Linked DNA regions of Homo sapiens: all the other regions are linked to region 4. A link means that fine-mapping ties the variant in region 4 to the plasma level of a protein whose gene starts in the linked region. Region 4 holds a variant in brackets. A gene starts in each other region. All regions are shown on their reverse strands.

The links. PIP is the posterior inclusion probability: the model's chance that the variant is causal. Protein levels are from antibody-based Olink assays in UK Biobank. Linkage for the fine-mapping came from a reference panel and not from the study's own genotypes, which makes the PIPs less certain.
Region 1: FCRL5 starts here. The variant in region 4 is fine-mapped to the plasma level of the FCRL5 protein (UK Biobank, PIP above 0.99).
Region 2: CD48 starts here. The variant in region 4 is fine-mapped to the plasma level of the CD48 protein (UK Biobank, PIP above 0.99).
Region 3: it holds the start of CD79B, and the variant in region 4 is fine-mapped to the plasma level of the CD79B protein (UK Biobank, PIP above 0.99).

What each region holds. Positions count from the first base shown.
Region 1 is chr1:157,548,518-157,556,797 of GRCh38, reverse strand. It overlaps FCRL5 (Fc receptor like 5), which reads left to right and starts at 4,283. Exons shown (of 17, transcript NM_031281.3): 1 at 4,283-4,466; 2 at 7,218-7,238. The coding sequence starts at 4,436.
Region 2 is chr1:160,710,502-160,718,769 of GRCh38, reverse strand. It overlaps CD48 (CD48 molecule), which reads left to right and starts at 6,948. Exons shown (of 4, transcript NM_001778.4): 1 at 6,948-7,088. The coding sequence starts at 7,007. RefSeq lists enhancers at 5,920-5,979, 6,520-6,699.
Region 3 is chr17:63,929,447-63,932,484 of GRCh38, reverse strand. It overlaps CD79B (CD79b molecule), which reads left to right and starts at 154. Exons shown (of 6, transcript NM_000626.4): 1 at 154-290; 2 at 1,100-1,150; 3 at 2,100-2,411; 4 at 2,597-2,715; 5 at 3,010-3,038. The coding sequence starts at 224. RefSeq lists enhancers at 1-174, 148-537 and a silencer at 1,235-1,304.
Region 4 is chr13:28,028,358-28,036,136 of GRCh38, reverse strand. It overlaps FLT3 (fms related receptor tyrosine kinase 3), which reads left to right. Exons shown (of 24, transcript NM_004119.3): 11 at 94-202; 12 at 464-642; 13 at 1,730-1,836; 14 at 1,923-2,055; 15 at 2,146-2,250. Among named protein-coding and RNA genes, the nearest start is that of URAD, 44 kb to the right of the region's middle. The variant A/G (reference allele first, on the strand shown) is at 6,267.

The DNA.
Region 1 (8,280 bases), not on the chromosome of region 4:
TATATTAAAAAATAAATGAGGACATTGTAAATAATGTTGTGCCAATAGACTTGGAAATATTGATAAGCAAATTCCTAAAAATATACAACATATCAAAACTGGCACAAGAAGAAATAAAGTATCTGAATAATCTCATATCAGTTTTAAAAATCAAATCTGTAATTTGCCCTCCTCCAGAGAAAGTTCCAAGCCTAAGTACTTTTTTTTAATTATTATTATACTTTAAGTTTTAGGGTACATGTGCACATTGTGCGGGTTAGTTACATATGTATACATGTGCCATGCTGGTGCTCTGCACCCACTAACTCGTCATCTAGCATTAGGTATATCTCCCAATGCTATCCCTCCCCCCTCCCCCCACCCCACAACAGTCCCCAGAGTGTGATGTTCCCCTTCCTGTGTCCATGTGTTCTCATTGTTCAATTCCCACCTATGAGTGAGAATATGTGGTGTTTGGTTTTTTGTTCTTGCCATAGTTTACTGAGAATGATGATTTCCAATTTCATCCGTGTCCCTACAAAGGACATGAACTCATTTTTTATGGCTGCATAGTATTCCATGGTGTACACGTGCCACATTTTCTTAATCCAGTCTATCATTGTTGGACATTTGGGTTGGTTCCAAGTCTTTGCTATTGTGAATAATGCCGCAGTAAACATACGTGTGCATGTGCCTTTATAGCAGCATGATTTATAGTCCTTTGGGTATATACCCAGTAATGGGATGGCTGGGTCAAATGGTATTTCTAGTTCCAGATTCCTGAGGAATCGCCACACTGACTTCCACAATGGTTGAACTAGTTTACACTCCCACCAACAGTGTAAAAGTGTTCCTATTTCTCCACATCCTCTCCAGCACGTGTTGTTTCCTGACTTTTTAATGATTGCCATTCTAACTGGTGTGAGATGATATCTCATTGTGGTTTTGATTTGCATTTCTCTGATGGCCAGTGATGGTGAGCATTTTTTCATAAGCCTAAGTAAGTACCTTTACCAGTAAAATCTTCCAAACATTTAAGGAAGAAATAACATCAGTCGTACACAAACTCTTCACGAAAATAGAAAAAGAAGGAGCTTGCTTATGAGACCAATATAATTTTGTTACTAAAATTCATCAAGAAAGAAAATTGGTCCATCTTCCTCATGAACACAAATGCTAAAAAGCACAGCAAATTTATAAGTCAAATTCAAGAATATATAAAAAAGATAACACATCATGGCCAAGTTGGAATGCACAGTTGATTTTACATTTATAATCATCCATGTAATTCATCATATTAACAATAAAAGTAAATAATCATATGATCATATTAATAGAGGCAATAAAGGTATTTACTGAAACAGCATCCATTATTTAGGAAAAAAGGAAAATTTCTTAGCAAATTAGAAATATAAGGAAAGGTATTTAATCTGATACATAGTATTCACCAAAAAAAATTACAGAAAATATTATATTTAATATTGAAATATTAAGAGCTTTTTCTGTGAGACTAAGACAGGACACCTGATATTACCACTTCTCTTTAGTATCATGTTTGAGTTCCTAGTCAGTGCAATAAGTGAGAGAAAAGGAAGTTTAAGTATTAAAAATAATGAATAAAACTATCATTATATGATTGTGTTTGCATGAAATCTAAAATAACCTAAAGATAAACTATTAAAATTAATAAGTAAATTCCGCAATTTTAGTAGATATTAAAAGGTCAGTAAGGCCGGGCATGGTGGCTCACGCTTGTAATCCTAGCACTTTTGGAGGCCAAGGCGGGCAGATAACTTGAGGTCAGGAGTTTGAGACCAGCCTGGCCAACATGGTGAAACCTCATCTCTACTAAAAATACAAAAATTAGCTGGGCATGGTGGCAGACACCTATAATCCCAGCTACTTGGGACGCTAAGGCAGGAGAATCGCTTGAACCTGGGAGGTGGAGGTTGCAATGAGCCAAGATCGCACCAGTGCACTCCAGCCTGGGGGACAAGAGCAAAACTCTGTCTCAAAAAAATAAAAATAATGGTCAGTAAAACAAAAAAGTATTATATTTCTATATACCAATATACATTTAGAAAAAAATCTAATGATGTCACTTACAATATCATAAAAAACATATCAATAACCTAAGGATAAACCTACCAAAAGATATACTTTCCAGAGGCAAAGCTATAGAAAATTACTGAAAGAATGTCAAGTTAACCTAAATAAATGAGGGGATATTGTATGTTTATGGATTGGGAGACTAAATCTTTTCTAATTTATACAAATTAACTTATAAATCCAATGCAATCCCAGTTATTAAAAATCTACTAGGCTTTTGGGGAGAGAGGGGACAGGAATTGACAAGGTGATTTTTAAATGTATAGAAAAATTCAAAAAGCCAAAAATAGCCATAACAATTTTGAAGAAGAACAGCATTTTATGACTTAAACTATCAGTTAATAAGAGTTATTATAAAGCCACAATAATTAGAAGAGTGTGGTATTGGCATGAGGATAGACAAAATAGACTAATGGACAAGAAAGGAGTTTCCAAAAATAGACCTACATGGCTTTTTGTTTTATAACAAAGGTGAAATTGCACTGTACTGTGGAAAAAATCAACTTTCAATAAATAGGGCAGGATAAATTATCTGTATTTAAGTTAAAAGTGAATATAAACACTCAAACTGTACACAAAAATCAATTGCAATGCTCTTATAAATATAAAATAAATGGTAAAAAATAAAGTTTCTAGAAGATAACCTGGGAGAGTATCTTTATGATCTTGGAGTAGACTAACTTTCTTAGAAGGGATGCAAAAATCTCTAACCACAAAGGAGAAGACTGATAAACTGGACTATGTCAAAGTTAGAATGGTTGTTCATCAAAAGGCACTATCAATGAGCAAAGAAGCAAGCCACAGATTGAAGGAAGACATTTGCAATACATATATCCAACAAAAGGTTTATATTCAGGGTTTAAAATAACTACAAAACAGGAAAAGAAAGACTGAAAGTTAAGAGAAAAATGAGGAAATATTTGAACAGAGATTGCACATAAAAAGGATATCTACATCACCAATTAGACTATGAAAAAATGCTCATTCTCAAATTCACCAGAGACATACAAATTAAAACCACATTGAGATAATTCTAGCAGAACGGCCAGATTTTACTAGATGACAATACCAATATCAGCAAGAATTTTAGAACAATGATAACTCTCATACATTGGTTGGTGGGTGTGGTGGGAATTGGCACAACCACTTTGGAAAATAATTTGGTAATACTTCCTAAACTGAATATATGCATACCTTATGAGCCAGGACTTCCACTCCCAGATATATACCCAACAGAATTATGTGCGCATATGCCCCAATAAATGTATACAAGAATGTTCATAGCAGCACTATTTGTTTTAGCACCAAAAGTAGGTAAAGATTCTGTGTTCCCTTTGAAGTTCTCCTCTTAATCTCTATTCACCCCTGTAACCCCTGTATGGTTTTCTTGCCTCAGGGTGCAGTGGGTCAGATGTGACATAATATACCTAAGGTGATGTGCATTTGTAGATATAAAATTAAATGCCCCCTTAGGAAGACCAAGGTATGGGCCCAGAGAGAAAGGGTGAGAAAATATTTGAAAGAAAGAAACTGGCACTCCTCGTGGCAGCTAATGTCTTAGGAACCTCTGTTGACCAGTATACCAGGATGGAAACTTGACTTTTAGAAAATCATAAGAGCTATACATTCACCTGGTAATTTTTTAAAAAATCAAACGGTACAGAAATACATAAAATAAATTGTGTTCTTCCCACCTATTGCTCCTCAAACATAATCAATATTTTTGTGTGTACTTTCCAGGAAAAGAAGAAAGTATACTTAAAAGAGTTGATGTACACATATATCCTATTTTTTATATTTACCCAATGGGATAATACTACAAAACCAATCTATATCTCACTTTTATTCTCTTCACATCAAACAAGGTGGTCTTCCCTTCTTGGCATGTTCAGATTTACCTTATTCTTTAATGATTGCTTGTCACCATACGGATGAATCAGAATATTCTTAAACAGTCCCCATATCATGGTTTTTTGTTTTGTTTCCAGTGTTTAGGCAATAATGAATGCTACAATAAACGTTCTTATAGTACTCTCTTCAGATACTTCCTTCAGGGTAATTTCCCAATAGCAAAAATGTAGGGTCAAGGGTATTTGATTTTTTAAAACCTTAACTTTTTTTTTTCTTTGATCATCGGGTAGGAAACTGTGATTAGCAGCTGAAGACGGGTACTCCCACTTCCTTTTTTCAATTCACTAATGCATTCTGCTCTTTTTGAGAGCACAGCTTCTCAGATGTGCTCCTTGGAGCTGGTGTGCAGTGTCCTGACTGTAAGATCAAGTCCAAACCTGTTTTGGAATTGAGGAAACTTCTCTTTTGATCTCAGCCCTTGGTGGTCCAGGTCTTCATGCTGCTGTGGGTGATATTACTGGTCCTGGGTGAGTAAAAGGGCTCACCATGGGCCCTGGGTGGGATCGGGACAGCTTCTCTCTCCACCGCAGGCCTGGTCCTTTCTTGGGGCTCAGCCCCTGCTGAGAGACTCTCTCCTACATTAGGAGACTGTATTTTTGAACTTTACTCTGTAGCTCAGGGCTTTCTCTTGAGGCTGAAGAAAATGGCCACAGCTGGAAGGAATTTTCAATCTTACAGAGTAGGAAACCACAATAACCACAACAATTAAAATTTCATTTATTTTTTTCTTTAAAAAGTACTTCTTAAAGTCCAGAGAATGTTTCATGTTTGTTTGTTCATATTGTCTTACTCATAGAAGAGCCCACTCTCCTCTCTGCAGAGGAGATGTATTTATTCCTTGTATGACAAGGCCAGATCCTGGTCCCCAGCATAAGAGGCAAGGTTTCTAACGGGAAAGACAGGTCTTTCTCTTGTACATAATTGCAAACCACTGCAGCAATTGGCTGATTAAGAACATGGGGTGGAGGAGGTCGCAGAGGCGTAGGTGGACAAAGCAAGGATAAATCTAAAGCATATGACTTTCTCTTTGTCCCTGTGGGTGTACGTAAGTCTCTATCAACTCATATGTGCGAACTGGTTGATTTTTACTAAAGGTTAAATATTATAATTAAATATGTTTATTTATTTGTTCAGCAAATGTGTTTAGTAATATCTATGCACAGGTGCTGAGCAATTAGAGTCCATAGGAGACACTACGTCTATGTTCTGGAAAGTCATGACATAGAAGGGCTCCCAGCAAGGCCAATGTACTTTCAAGCAGCTATGCAACAAGCTCCCAGTTAAATAATTGTCCAGGCAAAGTTACCAATGAATGCTGTAGGCAGATAATAAACTGTATTCAAAATAGCTAGTAAAGACTTCATGAAACTTAGAGGTGAGTAGGAGCTAGAGGAGCAGAAATGGAGCAGGCGTGATATAAGAAAAGAGGACCTCACAGTTGGAAGGTGCATGGACTATAATTCCTGAAGTAGGAATACATCTCAGTGTGGCCCCACACAATGTGGGTAATGGCCAGGTCCTGAGCATGAGAGGGCAAAGTTTATAACATGGGCTCTGGGGTCAAACAGGATCTAGGTTCAAACTTCATCTTGCCACCTACTGGCTACCAGATTCCTGGTCTACAAAATGCAGTTAATCCTAGTGCTTACCTCACAGGATTATTGACATGGTTATATGAAATAACCTACGTAAATGCAGACCATATAGAAACCACTCACAAAAATATTAGCTTCATTTAAAACAATGCAAAGATGAAGGAAGCCAAAATATTCAGGTGAATGGTGAATAATTTGTTGTTCTCAGTAAAACACTTAAGTTTGGATAAGTCTCCAATAGCCTCATGTGGACAGGGATGATTTGTCTCTCACACACTCCTGGATTTCTATTGCCTTGCTCTGGAGTATGATTGGCATTCCAAAAATCTGTTGAATAAATAAATCAACCCATATGCAGAATACCTACTCAATTGATAAACCTGCCAGTTTTGTGTCCTCTCTCTCTTCATTACCCATTTCTCAAATCTCTATCCTTCTATTCCTATATTATTAACCTAGTTCTTTAATTAATTCATTATACAACACAAATATATTTAGTGAACATTAAAGGAATATCTTTTATATGCCATTCACCGTTATAGGTCCTGGAGGATATATGGTGAACATAAGGAAAGTCCTAGGTCTCATAGAGCTTGCATTATAGAGAAGGGAAAATAAACAAGCAGATAATGAAGATAATTTGGATAAATACTCTGACAAAAATTACACATTACCATCTCTTGGGCTGAGCATCAGGTCTAAATAATCTGAGCATCAGTTGATTGTTTAAAAATTAGGCATGATGATAATGAGCCCTTGGATTCAATGATCTCATGAAAAGAGTATAGCCTGGAGTCTGGTGCCCAAGGGAGGCTTAATTCATGTCCATTTCCTTGCCCTGCCTTCTAATCAGTCTCCCTGCTTCATATTGTCCCATTAAATTCTGTCCACTGACAGAGTGCTCCATCAAAGTCTGAAATTCTAACCTTGTCAATCTCCTCCTTGAAACCATTCCATGACTCCTTATCACTTTTATAATAAAATTAGAACCACTTACTCAGGCCCTGCATGCTTCTCTGGTCTTATTTCCCCCAACACTCCCAGTTCCTGAGCACCAATGTCATTTCTCCACTTCTGTGCCCTTTCTACCTTGAAAGGTAGAAATCGCCTCTTACCACACACAAATGCTAACATCCACCTGCAGACTCATGTTCTCACTCACAGTTTTGTGAAGTATCATCTCCTTCAGGTACCTTCAAGGATCCACCCATCCTGTTCAACACATGTACACACAAACACACACTCTACACACACACATATATCCTACACACTGGGCTAGTGGCCCTTCTGCCCCCAACATACCCCATGTGTATTTCTGTTATTGCACTTACACCCTGTGTTATATTATTTTAAATCGTGTTTCTGTTTTTCCACTAGTCAACTTCTTGATGGCAGATACCATTTTTAAAATTCATTGTAGAAGTCCAAATACCATGCCATATATATATGTATATATATGTATATTTATGTGTATATATATACATTTGATGAATAATTATTAGAGTTTTTAAATGAATTTTTTAAAGGGACAAGTAATACATGCATGGGTAAAAAAGGGAATTATCTTCTTAAAACAAAATAATCATGGTTCTGTGCTCATCTCTGGCTCTTATTTTTTTGCAGCTCCTGTCAGTGGACAGTTTGGTGAGTTCTCCTGTCTTTGGCTCTTCAGCGTCTCTGGTTAAGAGTGTCTCTTCCTAATAAATAGAAAACATTTGTGATGGCTGCCTGAGATCTCCAATATCTCCTGTTTTCTTTCCTTTTTTTTATTATACTTTAAGTTTTAGGGTACATGTGCACAACGTGCAGGTTTGTTATATATGTATACATGTGCCATGTTGGTGCGCTGCACCCACTAACTCGTCATTTAACATTAGGTATATCTCCTAATGCTATCCCTCCCCCCTCCCCCCACCCCACAACAGGCCCTGGAGTGTGATGTTCCCCTTCCTGTGTCCAAGTGTTCTCATTGTTCAATTCCCACCTATGAGTGAGAACATGCGGTGTTTGGTTTTTTGTCCTTGCAATAGTTTGCTGAGAATGACAGTTTCCAGCTTCATCCATGTCCCTACAAAGGACATGAACTCATCATTTTTTATGGCTGCATAGTATTCCATGGTGTATATGTGCCACATTTCCTTGATCCAGTCTATCATTGTTGGACATTTGGGTTGGTTCCAAGTCTTTGCTACTGTGAATAGTGCCGCAGTAAACATACGTGTGCATGTGCCTTTATAGCAGCATGATTTGTAGTCCATTGGTTATATACCTGGTAATGGGATGGCTGGGTCAAATGGTATTTCTGCTTCTAGATCCCTGAGGAATCGCCACACTGACTTCCACAATGGTTGAACTAGTTTACACTCCCACCAACAGTGTAAAAGTGTTCCTATTTCTCCACATCCTCTCCAGCACCTGTTGTTTCCTGACTTTTTAATAATTGCCATTCTAACTGGTGTGATATGGTATCTCATTGTGGTTTTGATTTGCATTTCTCTGATGGCCAGTGATGATGAGCATTTTCTCATGTGTCTTTTGGCTGCATAAATGTCTTCTTTTGAGAAGTGTCTGTTCATATCCTTCACCCACTTTTTGATGGGGTTGTTTGAATTTTTCTTGTAAATTTGTTTGAGTTCATTGTAGATTCTGGATATTAGCCCTTTGTCAAATGAGTAGATTGCAAAAC
Region 2 (8,268 bases), not on the chromosome of region 4:
TCTTACCCCTGTGGCCTTGGGCCAGCCTATATCCTTGTCTCCATGACCTTATAGTGACTCTTGCTTGGAGCATTCTAGCAACAAAATGATTCTCTCTTTTCTCAGATTCCCATTTCCCACATTTTTTAAGTAGATAAGAAGACTTTTTTTGTTTTGTTTTGTTTTGTTGTTTGTTTGTTTGTTTGAGACACAGTCTTGCTCTGTCATCCAGGCTGGAGTGCCTGGCATGATCTCGGCTCACTGCAACCTCCACCTCCCGGGTTCAAGCAATTCTCCTGCCTCAGCCTCCCAGAAGCCTGTTTTTCAGCTAGTCAGCAAGTAGCTGGACTTCCCTTTGTTTGAATAGGAACTTGAAAGCTTTGATGAATGTTGTGAAGGGTGTGGAAGTGATTAGAGAAATGGAGGCTACCGAGGAAGAGGGAGGAAGTGAGGGAGATACTCACGGAAAGGCTTCATGTTCCCACAAAAACAGCAGCCTTTGGATTTGAGAGGACAACCTTTATTTGCCCTCTTAACATAAAGTAGTAACCTCTGGAGGACTTGAGGCTTGGAGTAAAAACTCACAAATGGCAAAGGAAGAATTTTCCCTCCTCCCAAAGGGGTGCTAACTCAAAAAAATCACATAGGCAGGGTTCTTAAAGGACCACAGAATGAGGTCCTACGCAGGTGGACAAACTGCTTCAGAAGGCACCAGAAAATTTGGCCCTGGGACATAATGGGGATAAAAAGCATATGATAAGTCATAAGGAATTGGCAGAGCTGAGGTTCCCATTAGTATCTGTCCTGGCAATGTGCTAGCAGACAGGGAAAGGGTTGGAGGTCATCTGAGCTGGTAGGGTAAGAACAAATGTAAATCTCAAGGGATATCCAGAAGGGAGCCCATGTCTTTGCTGCTACACAAACACAGCAAGAGCCATGGGCCACAGCAAGAGCCACGGGCACAAGAGCAACTGGGAGTGTGTGCCTAAGAAGTTACATGGCATGAAAAATGAAAACAGAGAAAAGGCAAATTGCCCCCGAGGTGGACGGTTCAGTGGGTGCGCAAGGCCATTTCAGAATACATCCAGAGAAAGCAGGAGAATAGGCATCGCAGGTTTTGGGGAAAGAGCCAATTTTAGTTGAAAAAGCAGAGGAAACCCCAGAAATTGCACAGTCTCAGGCTTTAGCCCTATCACTCTTGCAAGCCTCCTGTCCAGGACGGCAGAGAGGAATTGTTTTAGGGGTTGGTTAGTAAGCAGGAGAGCAAAAGGGAGAAGAAAACCACATATGTGGGTTGAATGACTCCAGCCAAAGAAGGCGAGGTGTAGAGATCTCTAACAACCAGAGAACAAATCTGAGTCATGGAACCAAAGTACGTTAGTGTCCCTTCTCCCTGATTCTTTCCTTGGGGTGGGCTGTCTGCATGCGCAGTGGCCTGCTAGTACTTGGGAGGGGCCACACATTCAGTGTGTTCACTGGAGTTGTATGCATGCTCACCTGAGGCGTTCTTCTTCTCTTCTTTCTTTTTTCTTTGAGACAGAGTCTCTCTCTGTTGCCCAGGCTGGAGTGCAGTGGCATGATCTTGGCTCACTGCAACCTCTGCCTCCTGGGTTCAAGTGATTCTGATGCTTCAGCCTCTTGAATAGCTGGGATTACAAGTGCTCACCATCACGTCTGGCTAGTTTTTGTATTTTTAGCAGAGACGGGGTTTCACCATGTTGGTCAGGCTAGTCTGAAACTCCTGTTCTTAAGCAATCCATCTGCCTTGGCCTCCCGAAGTGTTGGGATTGTAGGCATGAGCCACCATGCCCTGGTGCTGGCTGCGACCAATTATTATTTTAGAGAGGCACATTAACAATTGTCTGACCATCACCTGATGGTCGCCTGTCATTGCTGGTGGTGTGGGAGGCTCTCTCCTGCCCTGCTCACGTCTGCCTGACTACCTACTGTAACATTAGCCACCTGTTCTCATCAATTCTATCTTCTGGGAGATCGACCCTGTTCCTATCTTTGCTCTCATTGTTTCTGGGGAAAATTTATTGGAATGACTTCACTTTCTCTCACTCTCCAGGCACTAGCAAAGCTGTGCCTGTTGTGGCATTCAAGGCCCTGCTTAACCTACCAGGGGTCTGTCTTCCATCCTCAGCTCAATACCATACCCCTCCTTGAACATTTTTGGGCTACTCAAGGCCCTATATTCTCTGAGTTCCTAATTTCACATTGGCATGACTCTCATAGTGTTTCCTATGTGTTCTCCATTTCTTGTAGGCATATTGCAGATCCCCTGATGCCCAGAACCTTGATAACCCCAGAGTCTGTGTGCATAGTAGTTAGGCATGCCAGCTGGAGCATCAGACAGACGTAGATTTGAATTTTGATTCTGGTTCTAATTAGCAAAATGCCCTTGGGCAAGCCATTTGACTTGTCTGAACCTCAGTTATCTCTTCCGTAAAATAAGAATAGTGTTTATAAATATCCTCATGTGAATGTTGGAGGATTATTATTTTGTTGTTTTGTTGTTGTTTTTGTTTTTGAAACCTGATCCTTCTGTAAAATGTTGGAGGATTAAATGAGATAATATAGGCAAAGGTCCTGGCAAGTACTTGACTTAGTAGATACACAGAAAATAATAGCTTCTGTCATTACTATCACTTTGTCAAAGTCAAGCAGTAGGTCAAGTGCCCACCAGATTAGATACTGAGAAGAGTGTGTATTTTAATTCACATCATGAGGATTGTTGACCTGTACTTCATCTTCTAGGGTCTTTGCAGCCCCACCTCTGGGTATGCCCAAACTTCAGGGATTTCTGCAACCAGGGCTTTGGTGCAAGAACAGCTGATTCACTTAGGGCAGGGAGAGGGCTTTTGAGCCTTTATTGGTCACTTCTCTCAGACTTGTTTTTGAATCTATGCAGAAGCCTAACTAGCTAGTCCTGAACCTCAGAATGGGCACCCATAGTACTTCAGTGCCCGCTGTTACCATGCAAAAGGAGGAAGATTCCTTGGCTTAAGTTTATATTTCATCCTTTGTTTTAACATCAGCCTATATCCCATGGCTATTAATTCACATCTAAGCAGACTGTTGAGAATTATAGAGCTGTTTACTTGTCAATCTAAAAGAAAGAGGCTGAAACACAAAATATGATTTGAAGACTTTACTTGAGCCAAAGGGAGGACAGCTGCCTGGAAGACTCAGACCCAAGTAAAATTGGTTTTGAGCTCTGCTCAGCCTTTGTTACAAGCAGGTTTTTAAAGGCAAAAAAAGTGATACAAAGTTTTTTTTTTGGAATTCTCATTGGTTTGCAGAAATAACATTAATTAGTGATTGGTTACATATTGTTAAGCTGTAAGGTGTGGGTTATATGTCCAGTGCAGCATTATTAGATTAATTTATGGTTACTTGCAGCAATAGCAAGTAGTTTTAAGAGGTGAATACATAGCCCAAAGGTGGAGTAGGGGGAAGTAAAATGTGATTTCTGTCTCATTTAAATGTCTCTCTGATAATTTGAAGGACTCACATTCTTCAGATAAAAGTTCTTTCCTTTCTTCAACTTTTCACAACAACATTCAAAGGAGGTATTTTAACATTTATTTTTATTTTTACTTTTAGTAGAGATGGGGTTTTGCCATGTTGCCCAGGCTGCTCTCAAACTCCTGAGCTCAGGCAATCTGCCCTCCTCGGCCTCCCAAAGTGATAGCGACAGGAGACAGACAAATTCCTGGACAGATAGAAAAGGGTCCCTGGTGAAACTAGACTTTCAAGACAAAGACAGTTTAAAGCCTGAAAACTGGGCTGCCAGTTCTGGGTAGAGTCCACAACCAGAGTGAGAACTTCCTTGATACCTTTTAGCTAATCGAATGGTGCTTTTTCCAGGCCTGCCTATGGACAAATCTGAGCCGATGAAAACCCCAGACTCAGCCTCACAGAGGGCTACCTGTTTTGGGGCCCCTCTCACACAGTGGTCTACCCACTGTCTGGTCCCCTCTTTGCTGAGAGCTTTCCTTCTGTCACTCAATAAAATTATTCTCTGACCTACTCACTCTCCTTTGTCTGCATGCTTTATTCCTCTTGGTTGCAGGACAAGAACCCAGGACCTGCTGAGCTGCAGGTGGCAGGAACAAGCTGTAACATACCCGTATTTGCTGAGCTGTGGGCACTGGGACCAAGTGAGAGCTGTGACACACCCCCATTCACTGAACTGCAGGCAGCAAGACTAAATAAGAGCTGTGACATGCCCCCATTTGCTGAGCTGCAGGCAGTGGGACTGAACAAGAGCTGTGAGGTGCCCTCATTTGCTGAGCTGCAGGTGGCAGGAACAAGCTGTAACATACCCGTATTTGCTGAGCTGTGGGCACTGGGACCAAGTGAGAGCTGTGACACACCCCCATTCACTGAACTGCAGGCAGCAAGACTAAATAAGAGCTGTGACATGCCCCCATTTGCTGAGCTGCAGGCAGTGGGACTGAACAAGAGCTGTGAGGTGCCCTCATTTGCTGAGCTGCAGGTGGCAGGAACGAGAGAGAGAGCTGTAACATTTCTTGGGGTCTCAGGCCTTGGGATTCCCCAAGCAAAGCTGTAACACCCCTTAGGGCTCCGCAGTTGCTGGCATCTCCGAGTTTCTTAGTGCCACTGTGTTCCCTTCATTTAGACACTGGTGCCCAAGGTGGAAGCAGGTCACAGCACTCCCCGTCCTGCCACTGACTGAGTGTGGATCCTATGGCTCAGGAGTTCAAGACTGGCCTGGGCAACATGGTGAGACCTCATCTCTACAAAAAATTTTAAAAAAATAGCCATGCATAGTGGTCACTGTACTCCAGACTGGGTGACAGAGTGGGAGCCTGTGCCCCCCTCCCCCCAAAAAAGAGAATGTAACATTAATTTACAGGGTCTCTTTTAAAAATCTAATACAATGTTATCTTTTCTTGCTGAAGGAGCAGGGTCGTATCCTAAGGTTAAATCAATTTATAGGAAAAATATAACACACAGTTCCAAAGTGTAACAATTTGACCAAGAGGAATTTGATTCTGGTGCTGTTTCAAATTTTATTTGCAGGGTTCTTTCTTTTCACTTTTATGTTTTTTTCCCTTTTATTTTTAGTTGACATATAATAATTATACATATTTATGGGATACAGAGTAATATTTTGATACATGTATTCAATGTGTGATGATCAAATCAAAGCAATTAGGATACCTATCACCTCAAACATTGATCATTTCTTTGTGTTGGGAACATTCCAAATCCTCTCTTCTAGCTTTTTGAACATATACATTAAATTATTCTTAACTGTATTCACTCCATAGTGCTACAGGATGCTGGAACTTATTCCTCTTCTCTAGCTGTAACTTTGTATCTATTAACCAACTTCTTCCCATCCTCCACTTCCCTCTACCCTTCCCAGCCTCTGATAACCACAATTTTACTCTCTACTTCTATGAGCTCATTTTTTAAGCTTCCATATATGATTGGGAACGTGGTTTTTTATCTTTCTGTGCATGACTTATTTCACTTAACATAATGTCCTTCAGGTTTGAGGACTGAGAAGAGCAGACATTTTATTGTTCATCTCCATGTTGAGAATCAGAAATGTCCCCAATTAAAAAGTGATTACAAATATGTTATATCAGGAACTGTGGCTTGCCTGTGGGTCCTGGGTGGGCAAATAACTAATTTACATTCAATAGGAATGAGCTTGAAATTTCCTAGACATGATATGATTTGGCTGTGTTCCCTTCCAAATCTCATCTTGAATTGTAGTTCCCATAATCCCCACATATCATGGGAGCAACCCAGTAGGAAGTAAGTTAATCATACGAGCAGTTACCATCATGCTGTTCTCGTGATAGTGAGTTCTCACTAGATCTGATGGTTTCATAAGGAAGGGGCTTTCCCCATTGCTGCTCAGTGCTTCTCTTTCCTGCCACCGTGTGAAGAAGGACGTATTGGCTTCCCCTTGCACCATGATTGTAGGTTTCCTGAGGCTTCCCAAGCCATGCTGAACTAGAAGTCAATTTAACCACTTTCCTGGCCAGGCACAGGCCCATGCCTATAATCCCAGCACTTTGGGAGGCTGAGGCAGGTGGATCACTTGAGGTCAGGAGTTCAAGACCAGCCGGGCCAACATGGTGAAACCCTACTAAAAATACAAAAATTAGCTGGGCATGGTGGTGCTTGCCTGTAATCCCAGCTATGTAGGAGGCTGAGGCAGGAGAGTTGCTTGAACCTGTCAGGTGGAGGTTGCAGTGAGCTGAGATTGCACTGCTGCACTCCAGTCTGGGCTACAGAGTGAGACTGCATCTCAAAAAAAAAAAAAACCAAAACAAACAAAACAAAACAAAACCCCTCTCTTTCCTTTATAAATTACCCAGTCTGGGGTATGTCTTTATTAGCAGTGTGAGAACAGACTAATACAGACTACAAGGGTGGGAAATCCATTCTTTTGGGCCAAGTAATCTTACTTTTTTTCTGATGTTCAGTGGATAGGCTGATGTCAAACTTCAAATAGTGAATTATCATAAAGGAAGAAGAGCAGAGGGTGGTGCTGGGGGTAAGATATGCAGCACAAAGGCTACGTGGGTCTGATTTCCCAGACTTCAGGCTCTGAATGACACCTACCCAGGCTTGACTGGGAAGCTCCTATGTCTTAGCCCCTGAATTAATCAGAGGGATTCCTGCCTGGGAACGAAAAGCAGACATTCTCTATCAGGGTCCCTTATTCTTTTCTGAGTACTGGCCCCCCTGAGAGTACAGTAGAAGCTATGAATCTTCCCCCTACAAAAAAGCACTCATGTACCTTCAAACAAAATTGTTCTCAGTTTCCGTGATGCTCTTAGATAAAAAAATTTACAAGACCTCCGGTTTCTGGTTTCTGGGGCCCCACACAAGTGTGCTGGGTGGAGAGAAAATCTCAGTGGTTTTTTTTTTTTTCTCTCTAACCCTGTTTGGTAAGTTCCGTTTTTAGCCCCGGCCTTTTTCTAGCCAGGCTCTCAACTGTCTCCTGCGTTGCTGGGAAGTTCTGGAAGGAAGCATGTGCTCCAGAGGTTGGGATTCGTGTCTGGCTCTGGAATTGCTACTGCTGCCTCTGTCACTCCTGGTGACCAGCATTCAAGGTACTTTCCACCAACTGTGTATCTGTGATTGTGCACTGAAGGCATGGTCAGTTGGGAAAGGGGAGACGGGATGTAGTTCAACCCTAGAAGCCAGATCTGGTGTCTGGAAAGCAGGTATTTCCATTCCAATAGCATGGCCATGGCATGGTTGGGGAGCCTTTCTTAGCACTGATGAATGGAGCTTCATCTCCTTTCCCACGGGGATGTGATCAAAACAGGAACCTGGGGAGCAAGAGAAGTAGGCTCCTCATATTTTGTCCCGTGGTTGGTGGTCCATGAAGTTGTGGAAAAGTGTTTGTTTTTTCATTTTGAATAAGAAGAAGCTCTACACTGACAGCTGCTGCATTTTATGCTCAGACACACTGTACTCCCTTAGGCATTCTTTGAGACCTCTGTATATGTGAGGTGTTGCATCCTGAGCCAAGGTAAATGATATTGTCATTGACCCAAAGAAAAGATAGATCAAAATTATAGGAAGAAAAGCTTGGAAAGGATTGCTGTCTGGGGTCTCTGAATGAGGGTCTGAGAAGAGGCTGGAAGTGCTTCAGCATCAAAGGAACCTTAACACATCTGATTGCTAAGAGTTAAGGTCCATTCCTCTGCCACAGCCTGTTCGGTCCCCGGTGTGTGACCAAGGGCTGAGCTAACTTTCCTTCTCCTGTTAGAGCTGCCTCACCCTCTTTCTTCATCCAGTACCTCTCTTCTTATGCCAGCTGAGAAACAGCAGTGAAACCTTTGACTTTCTTGCTATTCCCCCAAGTAAATACTCAAGTCTTTTTAATTTAAAGGGCTTTAATGCTCACCACTCTGAGTAAAACAGTAAAAATCAACAAACATGTGGTAGTCACACTGTGGCATAAAATGATGATAGTTTGTAACTTTTGGGGAGATGAGGTAGAATGTGTGGAGGATCGGTCTCTCACATATTCTACCTCTCAGGTAGAGTCCTTTGGTTCATGACTGTGTGAGTCTACGGCTATATAGGTTCTGTGGGCCTGACTCAATGCATAGGACATTGGTATGACCTTGGGATTGGGGGCTGATGTGAAGTATTCATCTAACTATTGGGAAAAGCAGGGTTGCCAATGAGAATTGGAATATTTTAGGACTTTCTCTAGGCATACTGAAAACATCCTGACAGTTGACCTTTCTCTGACTTCTTTTCTAGGCTTCATCTTGG
Region 3 (3,038 bases), not on the chromosome of region 4:
TGGGCGACCGCCAAACCTTAGCGGCCCAGCTGACAAAAGCCTGCCCTCCCCCAGGGTCCCCGGAGAGCTGGTGCCTCCCCTGGGTCCCAATTTGCATGGCAGGAAGGGGCCTGGTGAGGAAGAGGCGGGGAGGGGACAGGCTGCAGCCGGTGCAGTTACACGTTTTCCTCCAAGGAGCCTCGGACGTTGTCACGGGTTTGGGGTCGGGGACAGAGCGGTGACCATGGCCAGGCTGGCGTTGTCTCCTGTGCCCAGCCACTGGATGGTGGCGTTGCTGCTGCTGCTCTCAGGTACAGAACCCACGACGAGGCCTGTGGGGTTTGCTCTCATCTCCAGCTGTCTGGGCCCTGCGGCTCTGCCTCCTGCTTGCTCCACCCTCCTCCTCTGTCTCTCACTCTTTACCGCCTGTCTCCCTCTCATGGCCCTGGGGCCTGGGTCTGTGGGTGTCAGCTGCACGTGGTGATGGGCTCAGGAGCCTGTGGCCCCAGTTCCTCTCCTGCCTGGAGAGCATCAGGCTGAGCTGGGCATGAGGAGCAAACCAGAGTTAGCAACCAGGACCGTGGAAGAACTAGGCTCAGGAGGAAGAGAGGCTGAGGGCGGTGCCTGGGGGTCGGGAGGGGAGAGGCTGTCCCAACCGGACCCTGGAAGATGCAAGATCCAAATGTGGTCCCCTCCTCTGGGAGGTGAAAGATCCTCCGGGCTGTGACTTTCTTCCTGTCTCTCTTTAAAAAAAAAAAAAAAAAGAGAGACAGGGTGTCCCTATGTTGCCCAGGCTGGTCTCAAACTCCTGGACCCAAGCGATCCTCCTGTCTTGGCCTCTCAAAATACTGAGATTTCCCTGTCCCTCCTGTCTCATTCAGATGCCTGCTCAAAGCCACCATGAGGGTCAAAGGCAGAAAGGGGGCTGGGGGCAGGGCTTCCGGTACCCCCACCCCATATCTGTCTCCCAAGTACTGGGGGCAGGGAGGACCGAGGGGTCTTGAAGCTGCTGTCATGGAAGGAGGAAGTAGCTCCGGGAACATAGAGGGCATGCAGGGGTGGGGCAGCCCAGGCCAGAGGAGGCCCTGACTGGCCCCGCCCACTTCCTCCCACCCAGCAGCTGAGCCAGTACCAGCAGCCAGATCGGAGGACCGGTACCGGAATCCCAAAGGTCAGTAGCCTCGCCTGCCGCTTCTGAGGGCAAGTTGTGTGCGACTATGTCCTGTGTCCGACTATGGTCCCTGTCCTGGGGGCGGTCCGCCTTCCCACCCTTGCCTGATCTCCCCATCCAGGATTCCCATCCCCAGGCCTCCTTAGGATCTCCTCTGAGCCCCACCCCCAGCCCACTGTCATCCTCATCAGACACATGCCCTCCAGCCTTGGCCACTGAAGGGCTGGGCTAAACTCTGGGTCATAGCAAGGGAGCCTGGGGGTTCCTCTAGGACTCAGGCCCGGGCCTGTCTAGCTGGGAATCTGGCTGAGTCTCGGGTGAGCCCTCCAGTGCAGGGTCACTATGTGAGGGGCTCAGGGATTCCCGGGCAGTGCTCACTAAGAACAAGGCAGTCGAAGCTGGAAAGAGGGTTCTGGAACAAGAAGTGGACCCAGTCCCTGCAGGAGGGAAGAGGGGGATGATAGAGGGAAGTCATGCAGGGAGGGGGTCGACTGAGGAAGGTCTCAGTTGACAGACTAGGAATTTGGCCTTTATCCCTGGAGGAACGGGGGAGACTGAGGATTTCAAGCCTGTGCAGGGCAGCCCAGTGAAAGGAGGGGCCAGGCCTGTGGGCCTCCAGGTCCTGGGGGTGTGGCCTGGGTCAGGCTGTTGTAATGGGCATAGGAAGGAATGGCAAGGTCCCAGGGCTCTTCCAAAGGAAAATCGAAGGGGAGGTGGGGCAGTCGGGAAGAGGTGGAGTCTGAGAGCTTGGCCGTGGCTTCTCATGTGGCTCAGCCTCTCACGTGGCTCTGCTTCCCAACTCCAACCTCAGCCTCCTGCCTGTCCCACACCCTGAGAAGCAAGGACTAAGCCCAGGGAGTCTGTGCCAGCCAGGGCAGGGGCCTGCTGCTGGGGCTGGCACTCAGGAAGATGCCAAGCGGAATGCTGAGCCTGGCCTTGGCACCCACAGGTAGTGCTTGTTCGCGGATCTGGCAGAGCCCACGTTTCATAGCCAGGAAACGGGGCTTCACGGTGAAAATGCACTGCTACATGAACAGCGCCTCCGGCAATGTGAGCTGGCTCTGGAAGCAGGAGATGGACGAGAATCCCCAGCAGCTGAAGCTGGAAAAGGGCCGCATGGAAGAGTCCCAGAACGAATCTCTCGCCACCCTCACCATCCAAGGCATCCGGTTTGAGGACAATGGCATCTACTTCTGTCAGCAGAAGTGCAACAACACCTCGGAGGTCTACCAGGGCTGCGGCACAGAGCTGCGAGTCATGGGTGTGTGCCAGGTGGCTGGGACGCTCCTGTAGCTGTCCGCCCCACCCTAGCCCGGCCTGCCTCTTGTGGTGATGGTCATGGCCCTAGAGCACTCAGGAGAGCCACTGGGACCTGAGGGAGCTGCCCTTGTAGGCCTAAAAGGTGGACTGTGGCCCAGGCTCACAACCCCACCCCTGTCCCCGCAGGATTCAGCACCTTGGCACAGCTGAAGCAGAGGAACACGCTGAAGGATGGTATCATCATGATCCAGACGCTGCTGATCATCCTCTTCATCATCGTGCCTATCTTCCTGCTGCTGGACAAGGTGATCAGGGGACGGGGGAAGCCTTGGGGGACCGCAGAGGAGGCCACCGCATAGGCCAGGCATATGCAGGGTCTCCATCTCCCCAGCTCTCGTTGTGGCCTTCTTGGTCCAGCCTGTCCCCACTGGCTCACCAATTCAATCATTCCTTCCTTCCTTCCTTCATTCAGCTGTTCTTGCAGAATGCACCTCACTCCTGACCCCTCACCCCTCTCCCTGGCCCTCCCCAGCCTGGCCCAGCAGGGGATGGGGCTGGGGGACACTAACACTCTGATCTCCATCCCTCTCCGCCCCCAGGATGACAGCAAGGCTGGCATGGAGGAAGA
Region 4 (7,779 bases):
ATCCTCCCACCTTGGCTTCACAAAGTATTGGTATTATAGGAGTGAACCACTATGCCCAGCCAGTGAGCTTATTTCACACGTTCTTTTCTATAGGGAAACCTCAAGTGCTCGCAGAAGCATCGGCAAGTCAGGCGTCCTGTTTCTCGGATGGATACCCATTACCATCTTGGACCTGGAAGAAGTGTTCAGACAAGTCTCCCAAGTAATAAGGACATTGATGCCTCTTATAATGGAAGAACATAAAACTCTCTGACCTATTGACTCTTTCATGAATACAGTTTAAGAGGAAATGATGAAATATTTAAAATGCTAACCTTCTCAATCAACCATAACTCTCAATAGTCATAGACTGTTTCTGATAACTTATACTGGATGAATCTCTTTTAGAACTCGCTGCAGAAATCCTAACTTCCAATCTGATGACAGCTCACCTGTCTAAATTCTTTGCTATTTTTTTTTTCAGCTGCACAGAAGAGATCACAGAAGGAGTCTGGAATAGAAAGGCTAACAGAAAAGTGTTTGGACAGTGGGTGTCGAGCAGTACTCTAAACATGAGTGAAGCCATAAAAGGGTTCCTGGTCAAGTGCTGTGCATACAATTCCCTTGGCACATCTTGTGAGACGATCCTTTTAAACTCTCCAGGTACAACAGTTGTTCTTGTGATATTCCACCATCAGGAATTCCCCACTAGAAGTTAGTCCCCATCGCTGACTTTTACTTGGGGAATTTTACAGGAGAGTATAGGGTCAGTGTGTGAGAAAAGGTTTCTTGAGTCAGGCAAGAATCCCCAGAGAGACTGTTTCACAGGTTGGGGCGGAGTCCTCCCTGTGCCCTTGTGACTCATGTGTCACAGTGACCGGGAGAAGCAGAAACTCCCAGTGTGGTGAATCTCCATGGAAAGATCTAACTCTAGAGAAACAGATTTTGTCACTTGGAGTCTCTGTCATTTTCCCTTTTGATTAGCCTCCTTATTTGCCCTCAGCTTGCTGTTTTATAATTTTTGGTTTGCTTTTTAGAGCCCTCCTAAGTTAAACAGTTGTGAAACCTGGCTGCCCACCCTAGTAGTTAGGATCACCAACCTCACAAAACTGACTTCTCCACTTTCATGTGCGACCTTCATAAAAGGGATATGAACTTCTTTTTTCTCTGACTTGTACATCCTGTAGGTTTAAATCCATGCATTTTTTTTTTTGAGATGGAGACTCGCTCTGTCACCCAGGCTGCAGTGCAGTGGCGTGATCTTGGCTCACCTCTGCCAGGGTTCAAGCGATTCTCCTGCCTCAGCCTCCCGAGCAGCTGGGATTACAGGCACCTGCCACCACGCCCAGCTAATTTTTGAATTTTTTTAGAGACGGGATTTCACTGTGTTGCCTGGGCTGGTGTCTAATTCTTGGACTCAAGTGATCCTCCCATCTTGGCCTCCCAAAGTGCTGGGACTACAGGCGTGAGCCATCGTGCCTGGACCAGATGTAATTCTTGTAAATTTACCCTAGTAAATGGTTTTAAAGAATGGATTGAGAATAATCCGCAATTTTCTAGGGAGGAAATGTATCCTTTACAGGGACATTGCCTGATTGTCTGTGGGGAGTAGAGTATATGTAGAGTGGTTGTTAGGACTGAAAATGATTATTACTGAAACAGGATGTGAGAGATTATAATGAGTTGTCCACTATTTATAATGTCACACAGGAATTCTGTTTCATCGCTGAGTGACACTCTTTTGTTGCAGGCCCCTTCCCTTTCATCCAAGACAACATCTCATTCTATGCAACAATTGGTGTTTGTCTCCTCTTCATTGTCGTTTTAACCCTGCTAATTTGTCACAAGTACAAAAAGGTAAAAGCAAAGGTAAAAATTCATTATTCTTTCCTCTATCTGCAGAACTGCCTATTCCTAACTGACTCATCATTTCATCTCTGAAGCAATTTAGGTATGAAAGCCAGCTACAGATGGTACAGGTGACCGGCTCCTCAGATAATGAGTACTTCTACGTTGATTTCAGAGAATATGAATATGATCTCAAATGGGAGTTTCCAAGAGAAAATTTAGAGTTTGGTAAGAATGGAATGTGCCAAATGTTTCTGCAGCATTTCTTTTCCATTGGAAAATCTTTAAAATGCACGTACTCACCATTTGTCTTTGCAGGGAAGGTACTAGGATCAGGTGCTTTTGGAAAAGTGATGAACGCAACAGCTTATGGAATTAGCAAAACAGGAGTCTCAATCCAGGTTGCCGTCAAAATGCTGAAAGGTACAGTATAGTGGAAGGACAGCAACAAAGATGCACAAAAATGGGAGGCACAGTTTCCCACCCATGCCTTCTTCTCTTTTCCATCCTTTTAATGGTTACTGTTTGCCATGTTTCAAGGCTAAAAATGGAGTGGATTGGGGTGTCAACCCAGTCATGAATACAAAATTCAAGTCATAAATACAAAACTCCACCTCTTCTTCCACTTCTCTCTTTGTTTATTTTTATTTTCTTTTATTTTTTTGAGACAGGGTCTCACTCTGTCACCTAGGCTGGAGTACAGTAGTGTGATCATGGCTCACTGCAGCCTCCACCCCCTGGGCTCAGGCTCCTCAGCAGCTGGGGCTACAGGCGTGCACCACCACGCTCAGCTAAGTTTTTTATTTTTGGTAGAGACGGGGTTTCACCATGTTGCCTAGGCTGATCTGGGACTCCTGAGCTCAAACTATCTGCCCGCCTCGGCCTCCCAAAGTGTTGGGATTACAGGCGTGAGCCACTGTGCCAGGCCTATTTAGTTTTTATAGGCTTTGATATTTGGGGATACAGTTGCCACAGGCAGAAGTTCTTTCTTACATTTGTGTTGTTTTATTTTTAGAGACAGGATCTTGCTCTGTTACCCAGGCTAGAGTGCTGTGATCATAGCTCACTGCAGCCTCGACCTCCTTGGCTCTAGCAATGCTCTCACCTCAGCCTCACAGGAGTGTGCCAAGACAATTGGCTAATTTTTTTTTTTTTTTGTAGATACGGTGTCTCACCATATTGCCCAGGATGGTTGCAAACTCCTGGCTCAAGTGAGGCTGCCTTGGCCTCCTAAAGTGCTGGGATTACAGGTGTGGGTTGAAACAGACTCTGGGTAGGAGAGAAAACTGGGGCCCTTTGTATCCTCACTTCGTTGCTCCATCCATTCCGATCTGGCGTCCAGCCCCATTGCTGGCCTCACCGTTACCACCGCTGACCCAGCAAAAGCATCTCCAGCTGGCTCTCTTGCTAAGGTCAACAGTGACTTCAAACCAAACCAAGCCTAATGGATATTTTTCAGTCCTCATTACTTGATTGTTCAGCATGAATTGATGCTGTTGATTCTTCTCTCCATCCAGAAGCTTTCTTTCTTTGGGTTTTGTGTCACCATATTCTGGTTTTCCTCCCACCCCTCTGCCCTTCTCAGTCCTTTGTGGGCTCATCTTCTTCCATCCAGCTTTTGTTGTTGTGGCTGATTTTGAAACTCAGTCCTTTGTGGGCTCATCTTCTTCCATCCAGCTTTTGTTGTTGTGGCTGATTTTGAAACACAGCCTTGCTCTGTTGCCCAGGCTGGAGTGCAGTGGTGTGATCTCAGCTCACTGCAACCTCCACTTCCCAGGCTCAAGCCATCCTCCCACTTCAGGCCCCTGAGTAGGGGGGACTACAGGCATGCGCCACCATGCCTGGCTAATTTTTGTATTTTTGGTAGAGATGGGGCTTCGCCATGTTGCCCAGGCTCCATCCAGCTTTTTATGGGGCATCCCTGTGGGCTTGCTCCTGGACCGCCTTGCGTTTTCGCTCCACACACTCAACACAGTCCATCCCCACTACACCCGTGATGTCCTCCCATACACCAAGGGCCCTCATGCTTGCGTCTCCTTTCGGAGCTTCAGGTTCATATGTTAAATGTTTGGATGTCTCAAAGGTCCCTTTAACACAGTGTATGCAAGGTGAATTCCCCTAACCCTGGCCCTGCACCAGCAGTCCTCTCTGTGACTGGTAATGAATGCCAGTGAATAAATAACCACATTCTATATAGTTGGGCACACTAGAAACCCGTGACTTTTCCTTGACACCTTCCTCTTTCTAACACCCTGTGAGCTAATCCTATCAGGTTTCCGATTAGTGTCTCTTGATTCCATCCTCGTCCCTCCATCTCTATGACCACCACTCTAGTTCAAGGCTCTCTCCTGGACAAAAGCTTCCAAAGCAGGTTCCTGTATCCACTCTTGCCTCCCTTTGGCTTCTCCATACTGAGGTCCAAGTGACAGTGGCGAAAGGCTAAGCAGATCAAATGGCTTTCCTACTTCACATTTCCTCCACCACCCGCATGGCTGGGCCACCGCTGCCTCCCCACCTCTTGCTCTCGGCACCCCAGAGCGCTGGCCTTCTTTCAGTTCCCCCAGCACTGTCCTCCCACCCACTGTGGGGCCTTTGCACAAGTGGATCCTTCTGCTTCCCCTTCCCCTTTCATGTAAGTATCTCCCACTGCCCCCTCAGATCTCAGCTTAAACACCACTTCCTCTGTCTCACACCACAGACAATATTGAGGCCCTTGCAATGTGCGACATTAGCTCTCTGCAGGCTTTCCCCCGTAGAATCCATCACCTTTGTCATGACATTTTTTAACATCCAATTGTTGTCCCATCTGTCCAGTAGCCCCTGTGCCTCATGAGGGCAGGGTCTGTGTCTGTGGTGCTGTGCTCTCTCCTTTCTCGACCTTTGCCCACTCTTTCACAACCCTCAGCACTGTTCTCCTCCCCTTCCACCATGAGTCACCTGGCCAGCTCCCATTTTTCTTCAGGACTCAGTTTAGACATTGAATGCTCCTTTCTCCACCCCTCCAAGGCTAAGGTAGCTATCCCTTTTGACCCTACAGTACCCCTGCACTCCTTTGCCACGTTGCATTTTTTCTTCTTTTTTTGAGACGGAGTCTCACTCTGTCGCCCAGGCTGGAGTGCAGTGGCACCATCTCAGCTCACTGTAAGCTCCGCCTCCTGGGTTCACGCCATTCTCCTGCCTCAGCCTCCCTAGCAGCTGGGACTACAGGCACCCACCACCACGCCCGGCTAAATTTTTTTGTATTTTTAGTAGAGACAGAGTTTCACCGTGTTAGCCAGGATGGTCTTGATCTCCTGACCTCGTGATCCGCCTGTCTCAGCCTCCCAAAGTGCTGGGATTACAGGCATGAGCCACCGTGCCCAGCCCAACGTTGCATTTTTTCTTTTTCTTTCTTTTTTCTTTTTTTGAGATAGGGTCTCACTCTGTCACCCAGGCTGGAGTGCAGTGAAGTCATCATAGCTCACGGCAAGCTTCAAGTCCTGGGCTCAAGTGATGGTCTGCAGCCTTTCCAGTAACTGGAACTACATGCAGGCACCACCAAGCCCAGCTAATTTTTATTTTATTTTATTTTATTTATTTATGTATTTTTACTTTATTTTATTTTTAAGTAGAGACAAGCTCTTGCTATTTTGCCCGGGCCTTTCTTGAACTTCTGGGTACCAGCAATTCTCCCGCTTGTCTCAGCCTCCCAAGATGTTGGGATTAGAGGCGCGGGGACCCACGTCTTGCCTGCCGTATTGCATTTATGGCACTGTATTGTCATGGCTTATTTACTTCTCTGCCTTCTCCAGGAGACTCTAAGATCCAGGAAGACAAGGGTTGTGTCTTGTTTTTCCTTCATTCCCCAGTGTCTAGGACATTGGCTCTTACAGAGTAGGCACTCAATAAATACTTGTTGAATGACTGAATGAAAGAGGTAATGGTACATGAAAATGCTTAGAAGAAGCTAAGCATGCTAAAAAATGTAAGATATTATTTTAGCCATGAGGAATAGGACATGAACAAGTAAAGCCCCGAATCCCTGTCCAGCGTGAAGCTGAAGACATGATGTATTAGGGGGTCCCAGTGCCCACAGGAAATCCCACCCCCAAGCTAAAATCTTGGAAACAAGGATACCCCTGAGAGCTTGCCCAAACCAAAATAGAGGATGTCAGCACCGGAGAAGCCACTATAAAGGTTAGGATGCCTTCCTGGACAAAATAATGGAACCTGGCAATCGAACCAAATCTTCACTGAATGTAAAGAAGAGTTACTATATCTGGAAGAAAAAGTCTGTTCACAGAGGGGTGGTGCCTGGAGCCTGGAGAGGGAAGTCCAGAGACCCTGCCCTTGCCCCTGTGGCTGCCCGGGCTGCCCTGACCAACTGCACATGAGCCGCAATGACGGGAGCCCTTGGATTCCATAGTGACTTTCCTCACACTGTGCTTCTAAGTCAGCTT[A/G]TAAGTACAGTTTGCTGAGCTATCTGGAATTTTCCCTAGAGAGAGAATGCATTGGCCAACCAATATGTTCTAGCCTGCTTGGCAGTTTTATTTCTCAATGTCAATTAATGGGTCTCTTGAGCACCTGATAGTGGGAATTAGTCCTCTTTGACCTTCTCCCATTGGACTTGCTGGCAAATCTAATGTTCTAGACCTGAGGGCCACAGGCTAGAGTCAACCATGCTCACGACACTGTTATCTCTCTCTGACTACAACAGATCCAAGAGTTCAAACAAACAAACAAAAAGGACGTTTCTCCCTTCTGTTAACTTGTACTGAGGAGGAAAAGCATGTGTTATTATTTTGTTTGTTTGTTTTGAGGGCCAACTGTAAGGATTTTTATTTTGGTAGGTAGAGGAAAGTCCTGTTGAAAGGTGCATTACCAGATTCAACATTTATACTATAGTCTTTGTTTTGTTTTGTTTTGTTTTGTTTTTGAGACAGAGTCTCGCTCTGTCACCCAGGCTGGAGTGGTGCAGGGGCTCAATCTCGGCTCACTGCAACCTCTGCCTCCCCAGTTCAAGGGATTCTTTTGCCTCATCCTCCTGAGTAGCTGGAATTACAGGTACGCACCGGCACGCCCGGCTAATTTTTTGTATGTTTAGTAGAGACAGGGTTTCACCATGTTGGCCAGGTTGGTCTTCAACTCCTGACCTTAAGTGATCCACCCGCCTTGGCCTCCCAAAGTGTTGGGATTACAGGTGTGAGCCACTGCGCCCAGCCCTATACTACAGTCTGAATTCTGCCTTAGGCTGGGCATGGTGGCTCATGCCTGTATTCCCAGCACTTTGGGAGGCGGAGTTGGGAGGATTGCTTGAATCTAGGAGTTCAAGACCAGCCTGGGCAACATGGTGAGACCCCATCTCTACAAAAAATATAAAAATTAGCTGGGCATGATGGCCTGTGCTTGTAGTACCAGTAACTTGGAGGGCTGAGGTAGGAGGATCACTTGAGCCCAGGAGGCAGAGGCTACAGTAAGCTGAGATCATGTCACTACACTCCAGCCTGGGTGACAGAGTGAGATACTGTGTCAAAAAAAAAGAAAGAAAGAAAAGGAAAAAAAAAAAAGAAAAAGGAGAAATTCTGTCTTAAAACACAGGATATTGTTTGTTTGTTTATTTATTTATTTATTTTAAGATGGAGTTTCACTCTTGTTGCCCAGGCTGGAGTGCAATGGTGCAGTCTCAGCTAATTGCAACCTCTGCCTCCCACATTCAAGCGATTCTCCTGCCTCATCCTCCCAAGTAGCTGGGATTACAGGTGCCTGCCACCACGCCTGGCTAATTTTTGTATTTTTAGTAGAGACGAGGTTTCACCATATTGGCCAGGCCAGTCTTGAACTTCTGACCTCAAGTGATCCACCCACCTCGGCCTCCCAAAGTGCTGGGATTACAGGCATGACCCACCATGCCTGGCTTCTCTCATAATTTTGAATTTAAATAAATAATGCAGATTGACTCTGAGCTGAGAAAAA